Linked DNA regions of Homo sapiens: regions 1, 3, 4 and 5 are each linked to region 2. The links come from fine-mapping of genetic effects on gene expression. A gene starts in region 2. Each other region holds a variant in brackets. All regions are shown on one strand. Distances are from middle to middle.

What was found.
Region 1: its variant is fine-mapped to the expression of FBRSL1 in whole blood (TOPMed, PIP above 0.99).
Region 3: its variant is fine-mapped to the expression of FBRSL1 in whole blood (INTERVAL, PIP above 0.99).
Region 4: its variant is fine-mapped to the expression of FBRSL1 in pancreas (GTEx, PIP above 0.99).
Region 5: its variant is fine-mapped to the expression of FBRSL1 in T cells (TOPMed, PIP 0.95).

What each region holds. Positions count from the first base shown.
Region 1 is chr12:132,510,932-132,515,931 of GRCh38, forward strand. The region is part of intron 2 of FBRSL1 (fibrosin like 1); the gene reads left to right. Among named protein-coding and RNA genes, the nearest start is that of FBRSL1, 23 kb to the left of the region's middle. The variant G/A (reference allele first, on the strand shown) is at 2,927.
Region 2 is chr12:132,487,802-132,492,924 of GRCh38, forward strand. FBRSL1 (fibrosin like 1) reads left to right here and starts at 2,350. Exons shown (of 19, transcript NM_001367871.1): 1 at 2,350-3,060. The coding sequence starts at 2,770. RefSeq lists enhancers at 1,311-1,440, 3,438-4,001, 4,715-4,784 and silencers at 1,631-1,700, 1,831-2,280.
Region 3 is chr12:132,756,853-132,761,975 of GRCh38, forward strand. It overlaps ANKLE2 (ankyrin repeat and LEM domain containing 2), which reads right to left and starts at 4,980. Exons shown (of 13, transcript NM_015114.3): 1 at 4,766-4,980. The coding sequence starts at 4,946. RefSeq lists silencers at 591-770, 4,429-5,018, 5,109-5,123 and an enhancer at 4,326-5,123. The variant GTATACT/G (reference allele first, on the strand shown) is at 2,669.
Region 4 is chr12:132,423,825-132,428,947 of GRCh38, forward strand. LOC105370092 reads right to left here. Exons shown (of 4, transcript XM_047429966.1): 4 at 683-5,123. Among named protein-coding and RNA genes, the nearest start is that of MUC8, 48 kb to the right of the region's middle. RefSeq lists an enhancer at 4,851-5,123. The variant T/C (reference allele first, on the strand shown) is at 2,229.
Region 5 is chr12:132,205,553-132,210,675 of GRCh38, forward strand. All of the region lies in intron 6 of GALNT9 (polypeptide N-acetylgalactosaminyltransferase 9), which reads right to left. It overlaps LOC105370091 (a long non-coding RNA gene), which reads left to right. Exons shown (of 6, transcript XR_007063541.1): 5 at 1-128; 6 at 235-1,549. Among named protein-coding and RNA genes, the nearest start is that of LINC02361, 18 kb to the left of the region's middle. The variant G/A (reference allele first, on the strand shown) is at 2,381.

The DNA.
Region 1 (5,000 bases), 23 kb after region 2:
CCTGGTGTGTGCGTGCTGTGTGTGCATGTGTGCGAGAGGGTGTGAGAGTGAGTGGCGTGCTGGGCATGAAGGATCTGTGGGGTGCTGCAGTTCCTGCAGAGTGGCCCAGTGGCGAATGGTGAAGGTGTGGGTTTCAGTCCAGGCCCTCCCCCTGGTAGTCAGGAGGTGCTGGTGTCCACCTCCAGGGCCCCCAAGCTACAGGGGGCACATGGGCCCATCTGGTGGGTCAGGACCTGCAGGGGACCCGGAGGCTCCCACCCCCACCTCTCAGGACTCTGCCTCCACCACCCCCGTGGGCATGCACTGAAGGGTTGCCTGCAGGGTCTCCAGGCGAGGGGGACCCCACAGGGTGGGCAGCGCCTTCTCCCGGCTTCCCCACAGTCCCCTGCAGCGTCCCGTCTGGCTGTTGACCTACATGTGGTCGGGCACACCTCACACTACAAGGCTACCCCTGGGCCCATCCCTGCCCCTTCCACGGCCCCCACCTGTGGTCAGGTGTTGCCACCCCCTCAGGACCTGGTCTCAAGGCAGCCCCACTCGAGTCTTCTGGAGTCCAAGGCACGCCACTCGCCCAAAAGGGAGGGGGTGTTTGGGGGGGCTTTGACTGTCTCCAGACCTCAGGGGAGCTGGGCAGGCTCTAACCAGTGGTCCTCCAGAGAGCAGCGTTGACCACCTGGACCCCTGCGCCACGTGACAGGAGGCTCTGGTCCTGCAGGCCTGGTCTTGCCCAGCTGGGCTGCCTCAGGTGTCAGGAAGGGGATGGGTGTCCCTGGCTCCCAGGCCAGGCAGCTGCTGACCTCCAGCACCCCGCACTTGCTCATGAGGACCCCACCCCCGCAGGCCCTCCCGGGTCCTGACCAGCCTCTGGTGCAGCATCTGCTTTGGCCTCCGGGCCCCCTCGCTCCCCACCCACCCGGGCCCCTTCCTCCGGTGCTCACCTGGGGCCTCCATCCCAGAAGCGCAGGGCTTATTTTTCTGATTAAAGAAAATAAAAAGTGCCGTGCCACTATTTTTTATAACAGCATCAGCGTTTGTAATTTAAACAGACGAGCATGTGTCTTACGTGATTTATTCCCACAAAGGGCTTTTGTGCTGGGCTTGGCTCGGGATTCATTGCACTCTGACCGAACAGAGGGGAGACCTGGAGCATCTGTTCCTGACCTTCCTGCCCACCCATCTGAGGCCTGGAATGGGGGTTTGTACTGTGCTCAGCATGGGGGCACCGGCCTCCAGATCCCCCCACCGCAAGGCTACTGTGTGGGCCAGTGTGACAGGGGTCGAGACCCCCCTCTCGGCTCATGCCTGGGGGGCACCCATCCCCGGGATCAGTGTCCTGGGGACTGGTGAGGGAGGGTGGTTCAGCTCAGAGTCCTCTGCATGGCCTGGGCACGCGTGAGGGAGCATGGTTCAGCCCAGCATCCTCTGCACAGCCTGTCAGGTGCTTGTGTTCTGCTCACGGAAGGCCGGGGCATGGAGGGGCCGAGTCCTGGCTGCAGCGCCCTGGCTGAGCTCCAGGCTGGACCTGGCACACTTGGGGTGCGGGCTTGGAGGGCGGTGCCATCTCAGAGTCACCCACACAAGCCATTGCCCCGCAGAGGGGCTGAAGTTGCCTTCAGACGTCCCTGTTGTCAGGCGTGGGGAACAGTGATGATTTAAACAGTCTCCTGCCCTCTTTCCACTTTCAGGCCCCTGCCCCTACCCCCGGGCTCCTGTGAGTACAGAGGGGGCCGAGTGAGTAGAGCCATGTCTGGGGCAGGCCTGAACGGGCTGAGGGAGTGGGGAGGGGCCATCCATGCTGGAGCTGAGCAGTGGCACTTGGCTGCCCCTTAATGGGGAAGGCCAGGCTGCCAGGGAGGGCTGAGGAGAGCTGGAAACTGCAGCCTGGGTCCCTGTGGCCAACAGCTGGGGGTGCAGAGGACACCCGTGGAGGAAACATTCAGGACCCAGAGGGGCTCTCGAGGCCTGGCCATGACCCTGCAGCCTCCAGCTCGAACCCACTGTCTGCACTGGCTTGCGGTCGGGGTGCCGCCATGGGGAGGGCAGAGACACCAGGGCGCTATGGTGCTGGACATCCATGTTGTGTCCTGGGGCCCGCGCCCTGGTGGGGACACTGCTGCCAGGCGTCGCCCTGGGAAATGCAGATTTCGTGTGGCCAGATCTTTGATGTTTCTGAAGAGCTGGGAATCCAGGTTTCTCTGGATTTGGCAATGTTGAAATGTTGGTGGTCAATTCTAATTTTTATGACTCACTTTGCTGACCAGAAGATGCAGCTGTGGGCCTGCGAGGCCTCCGGCAAGTGGGATTTGGCTCCCATCACAGGCAGCAGATTGGAGCCTGAGGCCTGGTTGGAACATGGCTTGTTCCCTTGTTTCTGGAAGGGGTTGGTACTCAGTGGGGCTGCGCCTGCCCAGGAAGATGGGCTTGTGTCCTGGCTGCTGTAGAGGGGGTGGGGGCAGCCCAGCCTGAAGGTTGAGGATGGAGGTGTCTTCCGGGGGGTGACAGTGGGGATCTGGGGGAGGCTGCCCGCTGCCCGACTACAGAGACCCTGTTGCTGCCTCAGGAACCCCTCTGGAGACTGGGGCCTGCGTGCAGTGCTTTAGTGACCATCAGCCCTCTGGTCACCTCTGTGGGGGCCTCTGCCCACCTTGTTGTTGTTGGCACAGGCAGGCTGGTCCCCTCCCATCTGCAGAAGGGGTTATGGGGAGGGCGTGAGCCTTCTGGGAGAGGCCGAGGCGTGTTCCTGCAGAGCCCACGGCAGACGAGGGCAGTGGTTGGTTTGTTGTTGGGGGAGGAGAAGGGGAGGTCGGGGTGGATTCCTGGAAGATGGGTGACACTGAGACTGTGGCGGTGGGGCCAACCCCACGAGGGGCCTGGAGCTCTAAGGCCCTTGGGTCCTCCCCAGGTCAGGCCAAGTCCATGAGCCATC[G/A]CTGAGCAGCCCCCAGGGAGGGAGGGGTGTGAGCGTGGGTGGGCTCCCGGCACCTGGCCCAGCATCCACGCCTGGTGTGTGGGCATCTGCCTGCAGACCCTCGTCCGAGGGCCCCGTCTCTCTGGACCCCTCACTGCAGGTGAATAGCCACAGTCCCTCCCCCAGGCCCTGCCCTGCGTGTTGGAAACACCACCTCCTGGGCCTTCCCCGTTTGCTCATTCGGGATCCTTGTCTGGGCACTGAGGACGATGAGCTCCGCCTCTGTTCTCGCGTCAGGGCTCGGCTCCTCCGTGTGTGGGGAGACAGGCTGGGATAGCATGCTGGGCGACTGTGGTGAGGGCAAAGACACAGAGGGCATGAGTGGGGGGCTGGGGGGGCACCTGGATGTTCAGAGGCCAGAAGGCAGGACTACCCGCAGGTGCCCAAGGGAGACCCAGGGCCGCCCAGAAGTCCAGGGGGAGTCCTGGGGCCTCGGAGGGATCTGAGCAGGGCTGCGGCCTGACCCAGGATCTCTCTGGCCTCCCTGGCGTCTTCCCAGGTGGCCCAGGACCGCAGTACCAGACTGAGCTGGACTGGCATTGACCAGGCCGAGGCCACCGGCCATCCTCCTCCGGCCAGAAGCTGCAGTGATAGGGGACATCCCTAGCAGTTCACAAAGCTGTGGGGAGACCCCGAGGGGGAAGGGTTTCCATGCTGAGCCACAGGCCCGGCCACGGTGCAAAGCTGTGGGGGGACTCCGAGGAAGAAGGGTTTTCATGCTGAGCCACAGTCCCGGCCATGGTGCAGGGATTTGGCACGAAGCCTCTCCTAGGGCCGGTACACGACCTAGAGGGCTCCCTGGTGTACCCTGGGACCTGGCAGAGTGCAGCTTCTCATCCAGCAGGGGTGGGTAGGGCCCTGGACTCTCCTAGGGCAGCACTGTTTAATAGGAGTGTTATGTGAGCCACATATAGAGTTAAGAAGAAATAAGTAAAATTCATTTTAATGAAGTATTGCGTTTCACTCCATGTACTTTGAAAATAGTATTTCAACAATGTAATCTATATAAAAATTGTCACATCTTTTTTACTCTTTTTTTTGTAGAGTCTGGGAAAGCCAGCAGGTGTTTTACATTTACAACACTTGAGTTTAGACTGGCAGCTTCTGCGCCCAATAACCACAAGGCTGACAGCAGGGAGGTGTGGGGGGTCCAGAACAATATACCCTCTGTGAGTGCTTATCTCATGCCCATGCTGTTCCCAGGCGCCTGCTGTCTGTCTCCTCATCCTCTACCTCATCGGCTCTATGGTTTGAGGCCAGACCTCATGCATCAGGCCAGAGTGTCCTGCCGAGACCCAGGATGCACCCCTCACTTGGCACAGACAAACCAGACACACCAGCTTCTGTCTTTCCCCATTTCAGTGGGTGAACCTGGAACCACCCAGATGACTGGGCTAGAAGTTGACAGTCATTCTCCTCTCCTCACTCCCCTGTCCTCCCACCCAGCACACCCAGCCAGGCAGGTCCTTAGCTTCCACCTCCTGAATCTCTGACCTGAATTTCACTAGAAAATAAGGAATACTACGTCAAAATTTATGGGATGCAGCTAAAGCAATCCTTAAAGGAAAACTAGCTTGTGCTTATATGGGAAAAGAAGAAAGGTCTAGAATCTTAAGGTTTTACCTTAAGAAACCAAAAAAAAAAAAAAATGGAAGGTTTGTAAACCTATAAAGGAAAGCCATAGTATAGACAAGAACAGAAATACAGAAATTAATGAGGCAGGCCAGGTGCGGTGGCTCACGCCTGTAATCCCAGCACTTTGGGACCCCAAGGAGGGTGGATCACTTGAGGTCAGGAGTTCAAGACCAGCCTGGCCAACATGGTGAAACCCGTCTCTACTAAAAATACAAAAAATTAGCCAGGCACGGTGGCGCACACCTGTAGTCCCAGCTGCTTGGGAGGCTGAGGCATGCCAATCACTTGAACCCAGGAGGTGGAGGTTGCAGTGAGCTGAGATCACGCCACTGCACTCCAGCCTGGGCAACAGAGTGAGACTCCGTCTCAAAAAAAAAAAAAAAAAAAAAATTAATAAGGT
Region 2 (5,123 bases):
AGCCCCTGCCCTTCACTGGGGTCACACATCTGAACATCTTCGGAGATCAGATAAACAAACAGTGTATGTCTATAATCAGAAACTTCAGGCTGGGCACAGTGGTTCACGCCTGTAATCCCAGCACTTTGGAAAGCTGAGGCGGGTAGATCACCTGAGGTCAGGAGTTCGAGACTAGCTTGGCCAACATGGCGAAACCCCATCTCTACTAAAAATACAAAACATTAGTCAGACATGGTGGCATAGGCCTGTAGTCCTGGGTACTCGGGAGGCTGAGACAAGAGAATGGCTTGAACCCGGGAGACGGAGGCTGCAGTGAGCCAAGATCACGCCACTGCACTCCAGTCTGGGTGACAAAGTGAGATCTGTCTCAAAAAAAAAAAAAGAAAAAGAAAAAGAGAAAGAAACTTCAAATCCAAAACCTCAGACCTTCCCAAGCAATTCTTCTGGGGGGGAGGGGGTGCCCACAGGATGCCCCTTGCAGTCTGACTGACCTCTGGGCCCAGCCTAGGGTGGGATGGCCTCTGGGAGCCTCGGGGAACAGGTGAGGACTCCCAGGCTACTTGGGAAGAGGCCTGTATTTAAACAAGAGCCTCAAATGCCACCTGGGTGACCCTCGCCCACATTTCCTGGCCTTCTGTCCAGGGAGGGGAATTCGGGAGCAGGCGTGCATGGAGAAACTACTCGGGGTCCGTTTCTGTCTTCCTAATGAGGCTTTTAAAAATCAAAAGGGAGGATGCTGGAGGGTGAAACCACGGTTTAACAAAACCCGGAATGGGAAGAGGGGGAGGGGGACCCTGCCCCCACCCTGGGGAGGCTTTGACAGGGAACCAGAGAGCGGGCTGGGTGGACTGGAGGAGGCTGGGTGAACAGGAAGTCCCCCCACCCCAGTGAGCTACTTTCCCAACTGCCTCAGCCCAGCAAACAGCCAGTGGTGCCTGGACCACACCCTTCCTGCCCTGCACAAGAGGCCGCCAGTAGGCTCTCCCAGAGGCAGGGTAAAGTGGACCCCGCAGAGTGGGCGAGGACCCGTTCCCACTAAGGGCAACCGAGGGCAGGGTCCCACCACTGTCTTGGGCACCCTCCCCTCCGCCCTCCAGCAAACCACCATTCTTCTCCGAGGGCCTGTGCAGGGGTGTAGCCCCGACCTGAAACAGGGTGCCCATGACTGCTGGGGCTCGGAGTCGTCACTCCTCGGGGAGGCCCTCTGGACCACCCAATGCCCACTCTCTGTGACACCTCCCCGTTCGATTTTCTTCAGATTATCCTTGGCTGATATTCTATTTGGCCCTGTGTTCAGGGTCTCTCTCCCACTTCTAAGAGGGTAGTCTATCTCAGCCGCTGCGGGGTCACCAACAGAGCCTGGACACAGGAGGCATCTGGCAAATACGCGCTGCATGAATCAATGACTCCAGTGCCCACGCGCAAGGGGCCCCTGGGCTCAGAAAACCCCACCAGGCGGGCCCCTCCGAGCTCGGCCTGTCCTGGGGGTGGAGGAGGAAGTTCGCCCCGCGCCTGCCTCGCAACCGCAGCCGCCTCCGTGCGCTTCCTGCCCGCGCCGCCCTCCACACTGCGCTCCGTGTCTGGCAGCAGCCCCCGCCTCGCTGGGCGCGTTCCCGGGGGTCTCGGTGGCGGGAGCCGCCTTCTTGTGGGACTTGGGGGCACGTGGCGCGGGGCGGGGACGCGGACAGACCCCTCCCGCATCCTAGGAGGCCTGGGAGGGTCCGCGGGGACGCGGGGAGGGGGCACCGCCTGGCCGAGGACCCTCCCCCGGTCCTCCCCGCCCCTTCCCCGTCCCTTCCACGCTCGCCGAGGGCAGGACTTCGGTTCCGCGAGACCGGAGGCCCCTCGTCCTCCTCGGAAGCCGCCCGCGGCCGGGGACCCCAGTCCCGCAGAGGAGGGCGGCGCTGCCCCCGCCTCCCGCTTGGAGAGCGCCGCCCGCAGGTGCCCACGGAGGGGCCGCGGCATCCCAGCGCCCTCCCAGGAAGGAGCCGAGCGGATCACCGCCGGCTGCAGCGGAGGTCGGGGCGCCGGGGAGGGGCGCGGCTAGGGGGCGAGGTCGAAGGGCGGGCACCTGCGGGTGGGGCGGGGCCTGAATTAGCGGGAGCGCCCGGGAGGGGCGGGGCCGGGGCCTGCGTGAGCGGGTCGGGGAGGGGGCGGAGCCTGCGGGGGGCGGGGCCTGCGTGAATGGGGCGGGGAGGGGCCGGAGCCTTGTGAGCGGGGCGGGCCGCGTGTGCGGGGTGGGGGCGGAGCCTTATGAGCGGGGCGGGGCAGGGGCGTGGTCGGGGCGGGGCGCGCGGGCGCCCGCGGCGGCCCTCACTTCCTCTGGCGAGCGCAGCCGGGCGGAAGTGCGTCAGTTGTTATCTGTTCGGGGCGCCGCCGCCGCCTCACGAGCCCGGTGCCCAGGAGCCCGGCCGCCTCCCGCCTGCCGCCTGCCGCGCCCGCCCGGCCCCGCCCGCTCGGCCCGATCGCCGCGCCGCGCGCATGGGGCGCGCCCCCGGGGGGGCGGCCGAGGGCCGCTGAGCGCCGGGCCCGCCCCCGCCGATGCGCCCAGCCGCCCGCGCCGGGGGTCCCAGGCCGCGCCGGGCCCGGGGCTGAGCCGCCCCCCGCGCCCGGCATGCCCGGCCCGGCCCGCCGCCCGCCGCCGCCCAGGGCCCGAGCCCGCGCGGCGCACACTCAGCCCGGCGGCGCCGCGTAGCCGAGGGAGCCCGCCTGCTGCGAGCCAGGCGCGGGGCGTCAAGGTCACCGGCCCGACGGGGCGCACGCGCGGCCATGGAGGCCAAGGTCCGCCCGAGCCGGCGCTCGCGCGCGCAGCGGGACCGTGGCCGGCGCCGGGAGGCCGCCCGCGACGCCCGCGCCCAGAGTCCGTCGTCGGGCGACGAGCCCGAGCCCAGCCCCGGCAAGGAGAACGCGGGCCTCCGCGGCGCGCCCCCCCGAGGCGCCGCCCCCGCGCCCCGCACCGCGCGTCCCCCGCGCCGCCGCCGCCGCGAGTCCAGCTCGCAGGAGGAGGAGGTCATCGACGGCTTCGCCATCGCCAGCTTCAGCACCCTGGAGGCCCTGGAGGTAGGTGGACGGGTGCGGCTTCGCAGGCGTTGAGGCGAGAACGGGGCCCGGAGTTGACGCGTCGGGCGATCCCGGGACCCCTGGGCTTGCGACCGCCCGCGCCGTGGGCAGCCCTGAGGGAAGCCCCGGCCACTTGGTACCCGTTCCAGGGACCCTGGGTGCCCACCGCTCGCCCAGACCGTCGCATCTGGAAGACCCAGCAGCGTCGGGTGGGTTTGGGGACGTTTTAAGTTGCAGAGGCAAAAAAATCTACGCTTCGAAATTGGGGGCTGTCTGACAGCACCGTCGGCCTTTTATCAGTTGTGTTTCTGTGGCCAGCATATCGCTCTGCCTGGTTCAGGACGTGCTAGGGAGCAGTGCTGGATCTTAGGGAGGTGGTGATAAAATGGATACTCCGCGGGCCATCCCGTTCCCTCCTCCCTTCGAGGGCTCTGCTGAGAAGGGGAGAAGGAGGGTTAATCTCAAGACCCCTCTTGGTGACTGCTGCCTGCTGCATGGTTAATAGATTGGCCAAAAATATTGCTTGTCTGGCTGACGGACAGTATTTGCTGAGCAAATACTGCTCCTCTTACATGAACTCAGCTGAGCAGAGAAGGAAATTAAATGCTGTCTGAGAGTTGGGGCAGGCGCTGTCTCCCCAGGACTGGCATGGGCAGGAATGCTAGCAAGTTGCCCTGCACCAGGGCCGAGACCCGCCCAGCGAGGTGTGCCCCGTGCAGCACTTACTTTGGGGGACCCTCATCTGCTGGACTTTGACTCCCAGAATCACCCCATTTCCAACCCCTCTCACTTTTCCAGGGGCTTGGGAGCCCATGGCCTGGGATCCCCCAGTCTCAGAAGCTGAGCTTTGGGAAAAGGGGAGATGCCTACTGCAGGCCCCTGAAGCAGCAAGTCCTCTTCAAGTTCTCATCCAAACTCTGGGGACTGTAGAGAGCCTTGGGTCAGGGCCGGTGGCCAGGGAAGTGGCCCCAGAACAGGTGCCGCATCGTGTCCCGAGTGCACAGTCAGAGCTGGGGCTTCGTGTCCCAAGTGCACGGACAGAGCTGGGGCTCCTGTGGGCCCAGGACGGGGTGGGTGGTGGCCAGGCTCATCACACAGGCTGGCCATCCTCTGTCCTGCACATTATTAGATGGCTCCAGGGCTGGCACACGCCATTGCTCTGTGCTGGGACGGGATGGCCCTGGGGCTGTCTTCTGCCCTCTCAGTGGTGATAATGACACAGACTGTACGTGTACTGAGCAATACTGCAAGCCAGGCCCTGCGCTCGGCTCCTGCACTGCAGCTGAGACCACGAGGATGCCCACTTTCCAGAGCTGTCGCCACCCACCTGCACCTCCTGGGTCCCTAACCGCGGCTTCCTCACTGCTCCGAGCGGGTCAGCCCTTGTACCCTGCCGTTCTCTGTCTGCTTTATGTTTGGTGCCATTGTGTCTTTGCAAAAACGTCACCTCAGACTCCTCTGAAGTGGTGCCCCCCACCCCCGTCGACGTTGCCCACCTTCTTTTTGTCATCCCCACTCTGCAAAGCTGTTTTAGAATGTCTTTGCTCTCCATTTTCGTCTCCCACAAGAACTTGTAAGCTGAAAGAGAGCAGACACTGTGCTGTCCTGTGTGTCTCCTATGGGGTCTGGTGCCGGGAAGAGCTCGATGTGTAGAAAGTGCCCCAGATGCGTGTGTCAGGAATCTGAGTGAGGAGATGAACTGTACTCAGGAGATCCAGGGCCAATCCCAGGCCCACGTGTTTTGCCCGCAGCGGCTCTGACTGGCTGTCCACCTGCTCTGGCAGGGTCACGTGCCCCCAGCCTGCAGGCAGTGGGTTCAGTGGGTTTTGGTGACTTCGGCTTAGACCAGCTGGCCCCTCAGGTCATAGTGAGACAAGTCTGCTGCTGCGTGGCGTTAACACAGCCACAGCACCCCAGGGTGGTTTCATGTCCCTTCCTCTGCCCTTCGGAGCCTGCCTGGGAAAGTACGGGGCTTCTGCACAAGTCATAACCTCGTGATCATCCCATACGTGTCTCTTGGTTGTCTACATTTTTTGCCAAAGTATGGTGGTTTTTCCCCAAAG
Region 3 (5,123 bases), 270 kb after region 2:
CCCAGGAGGCAGAGGTCACAGTGAGCCGAGATCGCACCACTACACTCCAGCCTGGGCAACAGAGCGAGACTCCACCTCAATAAAACAACAACAACAAAAAAAACAAAAAAAAAAGAAATAAGTAAATAAACAAAAAGATGGGGGAGACACCCACATGGAATACTAGCCAGAAGAAATGCACCTAACTGTATTACAAGTGAGTAACACAGGGGAAGCTAACCTACGTAACTTTGGAAAACAGTGAGTGACTAGGTGCTCTAAGGAGAAAGACAAAAAGGACTGTGCACCATTACCGTGTGAACAGGCTCTAGGCAGTAGATGTTTTCACAATGGTATAGGTTAACACACCTAAAGCTATTTTCTGTGGACTCTAGGGCAAAGCAAATAATTGGAATACACGGTGGCTGATGAGAGCCAGGACTCTCAATGACAGAAAGGAAAGTGGGAGTGAGAACAGGGTTTCAGCAAACGATTCCTGTAAAGGGCGAGAGAGTAAGCATCTCAGACTCTATGAGCCAAAGGCCACGTGAGTGCTCAGAACAGCCACAGGCCGCGTGTGGCGGCTCACACCTGTCACCCCAGCGCTTGGGGAGGCCGAGGCGGGAAGATCACTTGAGCCCAGGAGTTCAAGACCAGCCTGGGTAACACAGCGACACCCTTTCTACAAAAACTTTAAAAATTATCTGATGGCTGGGCGCGGTGACTCATGCCTGTAATCCCAGCACTTTGGGAGGCCGAGGCAGGTGGATCATGAGGTCAGGAGATTGAGACTATCCTGGCAAACACGGTGAAACCCTGTCTCTACTAAAAATACTAAAAAATTAGCCGGCCATGGTGGCGGGCGCCTGTAGTCCCAGCTACTCAGGAGGCTGAGGCAGGAGAATGGTGTGAACCCAGGGGGCAGAACTTGCAGTGAGCAGAGATGGCGGCACTGCACTCCAGCCTGGGCGACAGAGCGAGACTCCGTCTCAAAAAAAAAAAATTAGCTGAGTGTGGTGACGTGCACCTGTGGTTCCAACTACTTGGGGGGCTGAGGAAGGAGGATAAATTAAGCCTAAGAGTTTGAGGATGCAGTGAGCCCTGTTTGTGCCACTGCACTCCAACCTGGGCAACAGAGCAAGACCCCGTCTCCAAAAAAAAAAAAAAAAAGAACAGCCACAGATATACATAAACAAAAGGGTATGGTTGTATTCCAATAAAACTTTACTAAGGAAAATAGGTGGGGGCCAGTTTGGACCACAGTTTACTGACTCTTGCATTAGAATAAAGCCAGGGAGCCGGACACGGTGGCTCATGCTGGTAATCCCAGCACTTTGGGAGGCCAAGGTGCATGGATCATTTGAGGTCAGGTGTTTGAGACCAGCCTGGCCAACATGATGAAACCAGGTGTCTACTAAAAACACAAAAATTAGCCAGGCATGGTGGCATGCACCTGTCATCCCAGCTACTCAGCAGGCTAGGTGGGAGAATCGCTTGAACTGGGCAGGCAGAGGTTGCAGTGAGTCTCCAGCCTGGACAACAGAGTGAGACTCCACCTAAAAAAAAAAGAATAAACCCGCGGACGTCGCATTGAAATTGGAAGTATCAGTATGATCACAAGGTCTTTGACAGATCGATGGGTAAAGATGTGAGAAACAGCTAGGTCTGAACACTGGGTTATAATGTTCCATTAACAATTTTTTTTTTTTTGAGATGGAGTCTTGCTCTGTCGCCCAGGCTGGAGTGCAGTGGCACGATCTCTGCTCACCGCAACCTCCACCTCCTGGGTTCAAGCAATTCTGCTGCCTCAGCCTCCCGAGTAGCTGGGATTACAGGTACCTGCCACCACGCCCCGCTATTTTTTTGTATTTTTAGTGGAGACTGCCTCACCATGTTGGCCAGGCTGATCTTGAACTCCTGACCTTGTGATCCACCTGCCTCGGCCTCCCAAAGTGCTGGGATTACAGGCATGAGCCACCGCAACCGGCCAAGTACACAACTTTTGAGACTGGCTTTTCCTATTCAGCATAATGCCCTTGAGATCCACCCACGTGGCAGAGTGGATCGCTGCGGAGTGGCACCCCGGGGCACCCACGTGGCAGAGTGGATCACGCAGTGTGGCACCCCGGGGCACCCACGTGGCAGAGAGGATCGCTGCGGAGTGGCACCCCGGGGCACCCACGTGGCAGAGTGGATCGCTGCGGAGTGGCACCCCGGGGCACCCACGTGGCAGAGAGGATCGCTGCGGAGTGGCACCCCGGGGCACCCACGTGGCAGAGTGGATCACGCAGAGTGGCACCCCGGGGCACCCACGTGGCAGAGAGGATCGCTGCGGAGTGGCACCCCGGGGCACCCACGTGGCAGAGTGGATCATGCAGAGTGGCACCCCGGGGCACCCACGTGGCAGAGAGGATCGCTGCGGAGTGGCACCCCGGGGTATCAGTGTGCAAGTTTAACCATTTGAGTTATTTCAGTTTCTGGTAATTACAAATAAAGTTGCTATGAACATTAAATATGGGTTTTTGTGTGAAAATAGTTTTCATTTGTCTAATAAAAGCTCAGGAATGCAGGGCAGGTTTAACTTCCTAAAAACCTGCCAGGCTGATTCCCAGAGTAGCTGCACCACTTACCGTCCCCACCTGCAATGCACGAGGCCCAGTTTCTCTAAATCTCTGCTGACTATATATAT[GTATACT/G]ATATGTGCTATATGATATACACGTATCATATGCCATGATATACGTATATTATACATCATATATAAAAACATATTTTTATATAAAATAAATCAGTATTTTTTTATTTCAGCCATTCTCAAAACACCACCCTCACCCGCCGCCACCTTGTCCGCAGCTCTGCCTGGATGATGCCGCTGGTGACAGTAACAGCACTCAGAGGTGCTTAACACATACCAAGTGCTGCACTTACCCAACTCCCAAAAAAGCCTAACCAGGTATCACTATCATCCCCATTCCTAAAAGAGCAGGCTGAAAACAGGTTAAGCCCACAGCAATAAGTGGTAGGGCCCGGTGCGATGGCTCACACCTGTAATCCCAGCATTTTGGGAAGCTGAGGCAGGTGGATCACCTGAGGTCAGGAATTCGAGACCATCCTGGCCAACATGGTGAAACCCCGTCTCTATTAAAAATACAAAAATTAGCCGGGCGTGGTGGCAGGCGCCTGTAATCCCAGCTACTCGGGAGGCTGATGCAGGAGAATCGCTTGAACCCGGGAGGCGGAGCTTGCAGTGAGCCGAGATCGCGCCACTGCACTCCAGCCTGGGCCACAGGGCGAGACTACATTTCAAAAAAAAAAAAAAAAAAAAGTGGTAGGGCCGAGACACAAACTCACACAATTGGACAGGAATCCCCACTCAATCATCAGAAAGCACCTCTCCGCAGTGACTAACAGTCTGACAATTTAGAGTAAAAACAAACTCAGTTTCTCCCACTAGTCTTGCAACATGCTTCGGACACCAGGTATGTGGGGATTTTCTCCCCACAAATCACGCAGGTCGTCAGTTCTGCAGTGGACACAGGCTGGGTGTCGTCTGTCATCCTAATTCAGTCATCTATTCTGACAGCGTCTTCCTGGAGATACCAGCAGACCCCCACAGGTTAACGGCTCAGCCCCGCAAGACTGCCCCCCACTTCCAGTGCCCAGGTTGTTTGACCTGCGCTTGGGACCGACGGGGCGTAACCCGGTGACCTCCTCAGGTTGCGGTAATTTGCTAGAGTGGCTCCCGAACTCACAGACATGTTTTACTTACACTTACCAGCAGAGTATAAAGGATTACAAAGAATACAGGTGAAGAGATGCGTGACGTAAAACCGGGGGGAAGCGCTTGGAAATTCAGGGCCTCTCTGGGCACCGCCTCCAGGAACCCCCACGTACTATCTGGAAGCTCCCTGAACCCAGCCCTTTTGGGTTTTTACAGGAACTTCATTTCACAGGCGTGATTCATCAGCCACTGGTGATCAACGCAACCTTCACCCCTCTCTCCTCCCCAGAGGTTGGGGGTGGGGCTGAAAGTCCCCAGAACCTCTAACCCTGCCTTGGTCTTTCCTGCGACCAGCCCCATCCAGAAGCTCCCTAGGGGCTGCCGGCCACCAGTCCACTCAGCCTACAAAAGACATCACTTTGGAGGTTCCCGGGATTTCAAGAGTTGTATGCCAGGAAAAGGGGATGGAGCTGAAATACACAGTTCACTGTATCAGTTACCTCAAACTTAAAACGACCAAAACCCACCTCTGATCTCCACATCACCCAGACCCGACAGTCTACCGCAAAGCAATAAATGGCCACCTTCTCCCTCTTCCTCTGGCCCCAAACCCCTGAGTTACATTTGCCTTTTCCGTCTCTGCCTTATGTTCCATGACCAGTAACCGCAATGGCTTCACGTTCCAAACACATCCGGGACCCAGGGGTTTCCTCCCCGCGCCGCCCTCCTTTGGGCCATCCCTCCCCAGGTCTCGAGAGACCGCAGCAAGAGTCTCCGCTAACGCCTCGCCGGGCCCCCGCCGCCTTCCCCGGAGGCTGCTCCAGGGCCCGGGAAAGCTCTCACCCCCGAACCCGGCGTGGCCCCTCCGCCCCCGGCCCGGGAAGCCAAGTCCCCGCAACTGCCCTTTCCGCGGCCGGAATGGCCTTTCCCGACCGGCCCTGGTTTCCCCGGCCGCCTCGCCCAACTGCTGCCGGCTCCAGGGGCGCGGCCGGGACCCCAGGCCCGAGGAGGGCGTCGGGGCGGGGAAGGGGCCAGGGTGCGGGGACCCAGCGACCGCCTGGGCCTTACCTGAGGCGGGGGCGGCGGCCGCGCTTGGCGGAGGAACTGGGGTCCCGCTGCGGCCCAGACCTCCCGGCCGCGGGCCCAGCCGCCGCACCAGCCACCGCACAGCGATCAGCAGCACCGAGGCGCCCAGCAGCTCCCAGGCCAGCGCCGCCCACTCGGCCGCCGCCAGCCGCGGCCACAGCATCGCCGCCGCCCGGGCCGCAGCCGCCGAGAAGCCCGCGCCCCGCGCCGCGCCCGTCCCAGGACCCCGCGCCGGGCTGCCCGCGCCCTGCCTGACGGCGCCGCGCTCGAGGCGGCCGGGGCGGCGCGGGGGACACGGACGGCGGCCCCGCTCGCGGAGGCCCGGCGAGGGCGCGGCCCC
Region 4 (5,123 bases), 64 kb before region 2:
TGCTGTGGGGTTCACCCTGATGTGTGCGTGACTCAGAAGGGCGGCTGCACCTCTAAGTTACTGTCACAGCAGAGACCTCCCCTGGGCGAGGCAACTGGATCCACAGAGAGAACATGGGCTGCCCTCCAGAAAGCACCTCCTGCCCGCGGGGCACGCGGAAAAGGCCCAGCAGTTTCCCTTCCCAGGGCGGGAGCTACGCATCCAGGACCCAGCTGCAGACCCACAAGGGCCTGGGCTGCGGGATCCCCAGGCCAGTGACCTCCACCCTCGCCTAATTGTCCCAGCTGCGTCTCCTTCACGCCTAGTTAGATTTTGTTGTAAAGAGATAAAAGGCTGTTACTTTGTATCAGCAAGGCGTCTTTTTCTGCAGGACTGAGTTCACGAAAGGGGAAGGCGGTGGGCGGGGGAGTAGAAGGAAGCGGGGGCCGTTAATAGACTTTGGAATAAAATCCTGACAGACTCAAATTGATTCTGCAGCCTGAGAAAAATGGAGTGCAGAGGAAATGAGATTTATGCGCTGTTAACTCTGCAACTGCCTCTCAGTGTCTGCACCAAAGGCTGTTAAAATGGTGATCTTTAGTCACGTATGGAAATTGTGTGTGAAGAGACGGATGAACCGTCCAGGAGCAGGCTCCTTCCACGCCGTGTCTTATACACAGTGATATTATTATCAATGACATAATGCATTATGGGTGTAATTTAATCCGAGCATCTAAAGGTACACGCAAACCAAAGGTTCCTGGCACATGTTCCACGCCTGTGATTACCAGAGAACTCTGGGGGCTGTGAAGACAGTGGCGGGCCCATCAGTCACTGGCGCCTAGTGGGCTGTGGGGGTCTCACCTCTCCCAGCTTGGGGTGGGGAGGGCTGGACCCACTTTTACTCACACGCCAGCCCCGATCCAGGACACTGCTCAGGAGACCAGGCCCTCCCTCGGGGACAGGGCCCTGGGGGATCGTCAACTCCTTCCACAGCAGGGCAGAGCTGTGCCCACCCTGCCACGACCAGCTCCTCCACAGATGCCTCCTGTGGTGTTTCTTGTCATTGCTTCTGGGGGACCTAGGAGTAAGGTGTTCTGGACATCGCTGAGAAACAGCCCTGGGCCCCACTCCCCTCATTGGAGAGGCAGAGCCCTATTCATGCTTGAGGGAGTGTATCAGTCAGGCTGGGCTTGGCTGGGCTGTGTAACAAACAGCCCCACACCACAGCAGCTGAGCACTTCACAGATGCATGTCTTTCTCACATGTGTGTCCAGCGTGGGCCAGCAGGTGCCTTTGCTCTTTGTCATCACTGGGGGACAGGGACCCAGGTGTCAACACACATCCACAATCCCCAAAGCAGGAAGCATCATGAACTCGTGTTTAAAGGCTAGAATTTCATTGGCCAAAGCAGGTCACATGGCCGGGCCTAACTTGGAGAGAGAGGGAAAGCATAATCCTAAATGCGTCTGGAAAAGGAGGCCAAAATATTAGTGGGCGGCGCCACTGACTTCCACGTCTGCCTTCTGGACTAATCGACTGTGTTCACTCCCCGTCATGGCTCCCCAGGTGAGACGACCCCAAATCACAGCCATATCGGGTCTGGGTGACCCCAGACACCTCTTCACCGGAGACTCACAGACTGAAGAGATTGGTCATTGCCTCCCTCATGCTCGGTGCACAGTGGGTGGCAGGGAATGGACATGATGGCCCCAGCAGCAGGGAGAGAGAGAAGGGAGATGGCGGCAGTCGCTGGTCCACAGAGGACCTGAAACCCCCGGGAAGGCCCCTGAGCACCCACCCTGGTGCTGGTCCACGCTCCCTCACTCAGTCCAGATTCAGTTCCTACCTGAAGGTCACCTCCCTTTCTGCCATCCTCCGAGGCCCCTGGCTCTGCCCTCCGAGAGGTTTCTGATTCCTCCATGACCCTTCTCGGCCAGTACGAGGTGGGTACCCAGGACACGCCTTCCTTGGGGCCGGTGAGTCTTCGCCGCCCACCTCCTGGTCGCAGGAGTTAGTGGTGGTTTGCATTAACGCACACGTTTCTCTTGTAGACTGAGTGGGTGCCATCCTGTCATCGCGACTCTCTCGAGACCCCAGGAGCTTTCTCATCTCTGGCTTCAGCCAGCTCCACATGCAGCAGCCACCCCTGCAGCTCCTCCGCCATCGACCTTCCCAGGGCCACAAAGCCTTCCGCCCATGCCGATGGCTCAGCTGAGTTTCAGGGACGTCATCCTCCTCTCCCTACC[T/C]GGTCACTTTCCCCTGCGCCGTTTTGTCCAAGTGAAAATCACCATGCCCACATGGCACCTTCACCATGAGACGCCTCGATGCACGGGAGATGAACAAGGCTGTGACGCCGTGCCCTGCTTGAGACTTTTGTCAGTGCACTTTCTTGATCACTTGGAGTCTACAGTCAGCCGGCTCTTCCAGCTTTCTGGGAGTGTCATATTTTGAAATCTCCTTGTTCACTTTCACGCCTGCTGGCAGGATGGACAATTCCTGTCTGGGTCTGGCTCCTCAAAAGATCTCACTGGCATGTCTGCCGACGTGCGATTTTCCAGCCTTTCCCTAGAGCTGCGGTTTCGTCAGGTTCATGGTCCAACTTCCAAGTTGCCGAGTCCAGTCTGACCGAGTGTTCCACACCGAGTGTGCTCCGGCCTCTGCCCCGCCTTCTCTCTGTCCTCCACGTGAGCAGGACACGTGCTCCAGGTGCCCTGTGGCTGCGGCAGCACCTCATTTCTTGGAGCTGGTTTCTGCGCTGTCAGGATTGCTTGGTTCTGCTGCTCTAACAAACAGTCCCCAGACTCAGTGCCTTCAATGGCGAAGGCGTATCTCTCACTCAGGCAACTGCTCTCACACGTCCTCAGGGGACCTGCTGTTTGTCCTCACTCAGGGATGCAGGTGGAGGAATGATCTGTTTGACACACCTTTCTGCGAGGACTCAGTTGGCCAGAGGAGATGTGGCGAAACGCGCTGGGCGGGGGAGGCCTCTGCCGGGGTGGACCGGGGCACCTGCTCACATTCCCGCAGCAACGCAGGCTCAGGCTCACGCTTGGATTTGCCCTCCACTCCTGCGGTTTACTCCTTGAACAAATGTTTGCTGAGACTCCACCGTGTGTCAGACACTGCTCTAGGCCCTGGGGGTGCTGCAGGGGAGAGAGAAGACACAGGAGAACCCTGCTTTTGTGGAGTGTGCGTCCCAGTGGCAGCGGGGGTAGGTTGACAGCTGGAAGGGCCCGATGCTGATGAATCCTGCAGAGACAAATAAGCAGGAGCGGCAGGGACACGGGAGGAATCTGAGGCTAAGCAGAGAGATCAGGGAGGGGCTCACTGAGAAGCTGATGTTGGAAGGCGTGAGGGAGCAGCATCTCAGGCAGAGGGAACCTCCTGTGCAAACACAGTGGGAATGTTCAGGAAACTGCCCCATGTGGCTCAAGGCCAGGAAGCAAGGAAAGAGCAGGCGGTGGCCAGGGGGTGACGAACGGGGCGGGGCCTGGGGCGGGTGGCCGGGGGGTGACGAACGGAGCAGGGCCTGGGGCGGGTGGCCGGTGGGGGGGTGATGAACGGGGCGGGGCCTGGGGTGGGTGGCGGGGGGGGGTGACGAACGGGGCGGGGCCTGGGGCTGGTGGCCGGGGGGTGATGAATGGTTCAAGGCCTGTTGGGGGGGTGATGAACAGGGCAGGCCTGGGGAGCAGGCAGTGGCCAGGGGGTGACGAACAGTGCAGGGCCTGGGGTGGGTGGCTGGGAGGTGACAAATGGGGCAGGGCCTGGGGCTGTTGAGACACTAGGAGCCATGAGCAGGGAAGTGCTGTGAGCTGATCTGGTCTTGACATAATCATGCTGGCTGGGAGGAGAGGGCGGGGTGAGCCTGCGGCATCTACTGACTCCAGCATCACAAAGGGTCCCACACTTGGCAGCTGAAAACAGCACACACTTATCAGCTCCCATTTTCCTTAGATCAAGGATCAGGTATGGCTTGGCTGGATCCGCAGGCTCAGGGTCTCACAGGCTGCAATCCGGACTCAGCTGGGCAGGGGTCTCATCTCCCATGGGGAAGAAATGGCTCCGAGCTCAGGCATGTAGTTCTGGGCGGGATTCAGTTCTTCAGGGCCTCAGCTCCTCACTGGCGTTTAGCTGGAAGCCGCCCTCAGTCTCTTGCCCCATGGCAGCTCTCGGCACAGCCACTGGTTTCACCAGACCGTGGGAGAGGGTGAGAGGGATGAGCAAGATAGACCAGGGTCTTTCCGCGACCAGATTTGGAAGTGACACCCCATTGCTTTTGCCATTTTCTATTCATTTGAGATAAACCACAGGTCCCGCACATGCTCAAGGGAGGGAGCGCACAAGGACTGAGCACCAGCAGGGGCACCACGGGCCGTGTGAGGCTGCCCCATAGAGGGCGAGAGCAGCAGCTGCTGGCTACTGCACCAGTCCAGGCCGGAGACAGCAGTGTCTCGGACCAGGTGGCCGGGGTGGAGGCCGTGAGAAGCCATCGGATGCTGGGTACTTGCAGACAACAGGATCTGCTTCAGGCTGGGAGGAGAAGAGCCGCGCCTTGGCCTTCACCTGAAGGGGGCTGCCGTCACCTGAGATGGGGCAGCCGTGACCCATGACCTGAGATGGGGCAGCCCAGCTCCACTCTAGACAGGGTCCCTCCCGTGCCCTGGGACCTTCCTCCCAGTAGAAGGTGAGGAGAGCGTGGTGGGAAACGCAGAAGGCTTGTGAGCAGCGGGCAGGGCAGACAGTCCTCACGGGGAGACACCCCACGCCCAGCTCCAGCCACCCACCCGGGGCACAGCGGCCTGCCTGTTGTCACTACCAAGCTCGCCACCACATGAAGGGGCTGCCCCTGCTGGGAAGCCCTGCCAGCCCCAGAACCACCAACCCTCCCATTAATCCGCTTTAAACCCACGACGAGGTGGGGGCCCGTAAGCAGCTTTTCAGGTGAGAGACAATGTCCCCACGCAGCGCGTTGCCCAGGAGACCGCAGGGCTGAGCTGCAGGCTGAAGTCGGCCCGCTGTGTTTACGCTTCCGTATGTGTTCACCCTGCTCCACCCCAGGCCCAGGAGGGATTCAGAGGCTGAATTCCTGAGAGCACAAGAGCACAAAGAAAAACTCATGTGGGCAAACGCAGACAGGGAAT
Region 5 (5,123 bases), 280 kb before region 2:
TCACCCACAGGGGTCCGGCTCCTTCCCCGGGATGGTGGAGTCCGCGGCGCCGCCGTGCCAGGCTGAAGTTGGCCTTTGCATCCCGAGGGAGCGAACCGCGTTTCTGCATCAGGTTCACATCGTGGCAGGTGGTTTCTGGGTTTCTGTCTGTTGTCTCTGCTGTGGGACAACCTGCCTGAGAAAAGCCTGGGGTTTTCCAGCCCCCTGAGCCGGGGCTTCCTTTCTGCCTTCCAGACTAGGGTCGGGATTTCTGTTCGCAGCGGGAAGGGGCCCCGCTGGTGAATCCCGCCCACCGCCCTCCCACTCCGCGGATGTCTCCCACCCTCAACCTGAGACCACCCAGGTTTCGTGAGAAGGAGGGGGGAAGCACCTCGGAGCCCTGCCCTTCGCTGGAAGGGGCCGGAACGAAGGAAGCTCTGCAGGGGCGGGACAGAGCCTCGTCCTCCATCGTCTGCCCACCCGTCTTCAGAAGCGCCTGGCACACTGGCCTCTGGGACGACCTCCAGCAGTTTCAGCCTCCTTGTCTACCCCCAGTACAGAGGCCACGGTGACTCGGTCCCCCCACCCACCACAGAATCCTGTCCTCGGGCCTCACGCTGGGGAACACGAAGCCCCCCAGGGCTCCTGACGCCTGCCTTGCCCACCCCCTGGGTTCGAAGCACCTTGGCCTTCCCAGCACCCCCACGTGCACCCCTCAGGGCCTTGGCACAGGTGGTGCCCACGCCGGGCGCCCTTCCCAGGTCTCTGCATGCTCCACTGCCTCCAGCCTTCAAAGCTCTAGTGCCAGAGAGATTAGTTAAAGGCACAAAACCAGCCGGGCACAGGGGCCTCACACTTGTAATTCCAGCACTTTGGGAGGCCGAGGTGGGTGGATCACTTGAGGCCAGGAGTTCGAGACCGCCTGGCCAACATGATGAAACCCCATGTCTACTAAAAATACAAAAATTAGCTGGGCATGGTGGCAGATGCCTGTAGTCCCAGCTACTCAGGAGGCTGAAACATGAGAATCTCTTGAACCCGGGAGGCAGAGGTGACAGTGAGCTGAGATCACACCACTGCACTGCAGCCTGGGCGACAGAGCGAGACTCCGTCTCAAAAAAAAAAAAAAAGGACCAAAACCACAGGCAGAGAGGAGCCAGTGCTGGTGCCGCTGAGGGAGGACCGTGGACCTGACCGTGACCCAGCCGGCAACTGGGAGGAGGAGCCGAGCCCCCACACAAGGAAATGGCAAATGTGGAGATGGCGGCTGACCTGAGTGCGGCACGCCATACCCCGTGAACGGGGACAATCCTATTTGTCCATTAAAAAAACCAGCGAGCCTGGGCAACATAGTGAGACACCACCTCCACAGAAAAAAACAAAATTAGCCAGGTGTGGTGGTGCATGCCTGCGGTCCCAGCTGCTTGGGAGGCTGAGGCGGGAGGATCACCTGAGCCCGGGAGGTTGAGGCTGCAGTGAGCCAAGATCACGTAACGCTCTCCAACCTGGGTTAAAGAGTGAGACCCTGTCTGAAAACATAAAAAGTAAAAATAAACCCCAAATGTCACCATCAAGTCTTCAGGGTGAGTCCTCTCCCTCCATCCTGTTTAGAGCCGCCGTCCTTGCCCCATAGCTGGGCGTCCGGACCAGAGGCTCACACCCCTCAGTATGGCGCCGCCTGCTATCCGTCCCCGTCTCTGCCTGTCCCTCCCCATGGCTCAGCTCCGCAGGACAGGGTTTCTGTCGCTTCTGCTCACAGCTGCCTCCCAGTGCTCAGAGCGAGGCCGGGCACACAGTAGGTGCTTGATAAATAGCTGCGGAACGAATGTGTTCCCTTTAGGAACCCCACAGCCACTTACGGCCACTCTGTCCCCGGGGCCTTCTGTGGCGCTGGGGCGATTCCACATGGGAACCTGGTGGGACTGCTGGGCGGTCTGCGAGGCCTCCCCAAGCCAGCTCCACAGGTGCCAGCCCCGTCAGTGTGTGCTGAGCTTGCGGGTGGTGCCGAGGCCCCTTCTTGGGTGAATGCAGCCTCAGGTCTCTCGGCCCTCGGGTCCCCCACCGTGTCTCTAGAAGGACCGAAGCTACGGGAGAGGCGAGGCTCCCGGGCGGTGGGAGTCGGCCAACTTCCATCATTAGCTGAGGACCTGTCACAGCCGGGGACTGGGCTGCTTCAGTCTCCGGGCTTGGGCCGCAGACCCCTGAGCTTTCGGGGTGTGTGAGGTGCCCCCTAAGCACAAGGGCCCACGGCTTGCGTGACCTGGCTTTTCAGCAGGGCCATTAGCTCAGGAGTGATAAAGTCGGAGAGTGAACCCCCATGCCCTCAGCAACATCCCCTTTCCAATCCCTGCAAAACAGGGAAAGAACAAGACAGCCCCCACCCCCCACCACGACTCCTCGC[G/A]CAAGCAGCACTGGTGTGTGGCGTCCCCACACCCGGGGCAGGTCTCTTTTCTGCGTCAGAGTTAATGACCGTGTAGTTTTTCACATATTTTGAAGCCAGGGACCAGTATATCATCTGCCTTGTGCCGCGCTCCCCGGGAGATTGATGCTTATGCAGAGGGAGAATTTAAAGGCTCTCCCATCACAGTCTCAAGGGAAACAGTTTAACCCCTCTATAAATTTCAGATGAATATTGGCAATAACTTCTCCACTCTGTGGGCCAGAGGAGACCAACACCTAAGGATCAGGCAAAATCCTCCCACAGGAGCCAGAGGCACTTGGCCCCCCTCTCAGGGGCTCTCAAGAGGCAGGAGGCCCGGGCCCCTCCCCTTCCTGGCCACACTAGAGGAAGATCAGGTGAAGGAGGCCGGAGCCCGGCTGGCACTCTGCACTGAGAGCAACTGGGGATAAGCTGGACTCGCCTTCTGGCGTCTGTGTGTGCAGCTCTCCCCACTGAGAGGGGGACGCTATCACCCTAGGCCTTCGTCACGTGATTTGCTTGGACCAACAGAAAGGGCCAGAACCCACCCAGTGCCAAGGCCAAGCTTGGGCCTCAGGAGACTGCACTCACACCGATCTCTGTCTTGTAACCTGGCCGCCAGCATGAGGATGAGAGACCATGTGGAGCAGAGAGAAGCCGCCCAGCTGAGCCCATTCCTCCCCACCCCAACCAGCCAACCCCGCTCACCTGGCTGCTGACTGCCGGCATCAGCAAGGCCAGCTGAGAGCAGAGCCGCTCTGCTCCACATAGACCATGTGCCAACCCAGAGTTGTGGGCCAAGGAAATGGTTGTCTTAGGCCGCAACATTTCAGAGTGGATTGTTACACATCCAAGAGCTGACCCATCCATGCTGCTTTGGCAGGTACAGCTGGCAAAGACCCTCACTCCTGTGGCTTCCTTGCATGCAGCACATAGTACCAGTTAATGCTAGTTACTAGCCATGCATCCCCACTGCCCAAGACAATCCGAGTTGATACCCCTGTCTTGGGGTAATTATTAATAGCACCTCTGGTAACTCTCAGGTGTCCTGGTTTGGGTGACGATGCCTGTGGTCACCCCCGTGCTACCTGACCATCTGGCCCCACAGCCAGGGCGGAAGTCCAAGCATTAGAGCCATTCAAACCACATCGTGAACAGGGGCTGGGTAAGATGAGGCTGAGACCCACTGGGCTGCATTCCCAGATGGTGAAGGCACTCTAAGTCACAGGATGAGATAGGAGGTCGGCACAAGACACAGGTCACAAAGACCTTGCTGATAAAATAGGTTGCAGTAGGCCGGGTGCGGTGGCTCACGCCTGTAATCCCAGCAGTTTGGGAGGCTGAGGTGGGTGGATCATGAAGTCAAGAGATCGTGACCATCCTGGCCAACATGGTGAAATGCCGTCTTTACTAAAAAAAATAAATAAATAAATAAATAAAAAATAAAAAATTAGCTGGGCATGGTGGCGTGCACCTGTAGTCCCAGCTACTTGGGAGGCTGAGGCAGGAGAATTGCTTGAACTTGGGAAGCAAAGGTTGCAGTGAGCCGAGATCGCACCATTGCACTCCAGCCTGAGTGACAGAGCAAGACTTCATCTCAAACAAACAAACAGGTTCCAGTAAAGGAGCCGCCAAGTCCCACCAAAACCAAGATGGCAACGAGTGACTTGTGGTCATCCTCACGGCTCATTTTATGCTCATTATAATGCATTAGCTGCTAAAAGACACTCCCCCCAGCACCAAGACAGTTCACAGATGCCATGGGAACGTCAGGAAGTTACCCTGCGTGGTCTAAAAAGGGTGGAGCCCTCAGTTCGGGGAAATCCTGCTGCCTTTCCCAGAAAACTCAGGAATAATCCATCCCTTGTTTAGCAAATGATCAAAAAATAACCACAAAAGTTAATTAGTAAATAATCAACCAGCAGCCCTGGGGGCCACTCTGCCTGTGGAGCAGCCATTCTTCTCTTTACTTCATTTCTTTACTTCTCTAATAAACTTGCTTTCACTTTACTCTGTGGACTCGCCCCGAATTCTGCCTTGTACAAGATCCAAGAGGCCTCTCTTGGGGTCTGGATGGGGACCCCTTTCTGGTCACACGAGGAAGACACGGGTGGCGTGGGTGACACACCAAGGCTGAGGGGCCGTCACTAACTGCAGAGGCCAGAGATGGGAAAACAGGAGACTCCTCCAGAGATGGGTGGGTCCCTGGGGCCCGTCGTCTGCAGGCCCCGGGCTGGCACATCACAGCGAGAGGAGAGACAGGAGAGGGGCCCTGCTGCGCGTGGGCGTTGGGTCAAAAACTCCCCCTGTACATTCAGGACTGACGTTGTCTTTGGCGGCGCTGTGGGCCTGGCAAAGGGCCTGCGGGCGAGGCCGTCCCGTGAAGTCGGACCTGTTCTTCTGGTCAAGGCAAGCAAAGCAACAGGGCTCGTAGGGTTCTCCTGGAAGCGCTGGGGACATGCGGCCTTCATCGTGAAACTGTCATCTAGAGGGGAGGCAGGCGAGGCTCAGACGTCACACTCATCACGTGTGGGTGCAGCTGGAGGACTGAGTGGGGCCATGAGGCTTGGGCAGGAGGTGCGCCCTGGCTGGGGACGGCTTCCTGAACCCCAGCTCTGAGCGGAGATGGGTGGCGAGTGGGGTTAACTGGCGGTGAGACACAGGCATGCTTGAGGCCCGAGCCCCGTCCTCCTGGGCTGTGGGGCTGTGCAGAGCTGGCATGGGC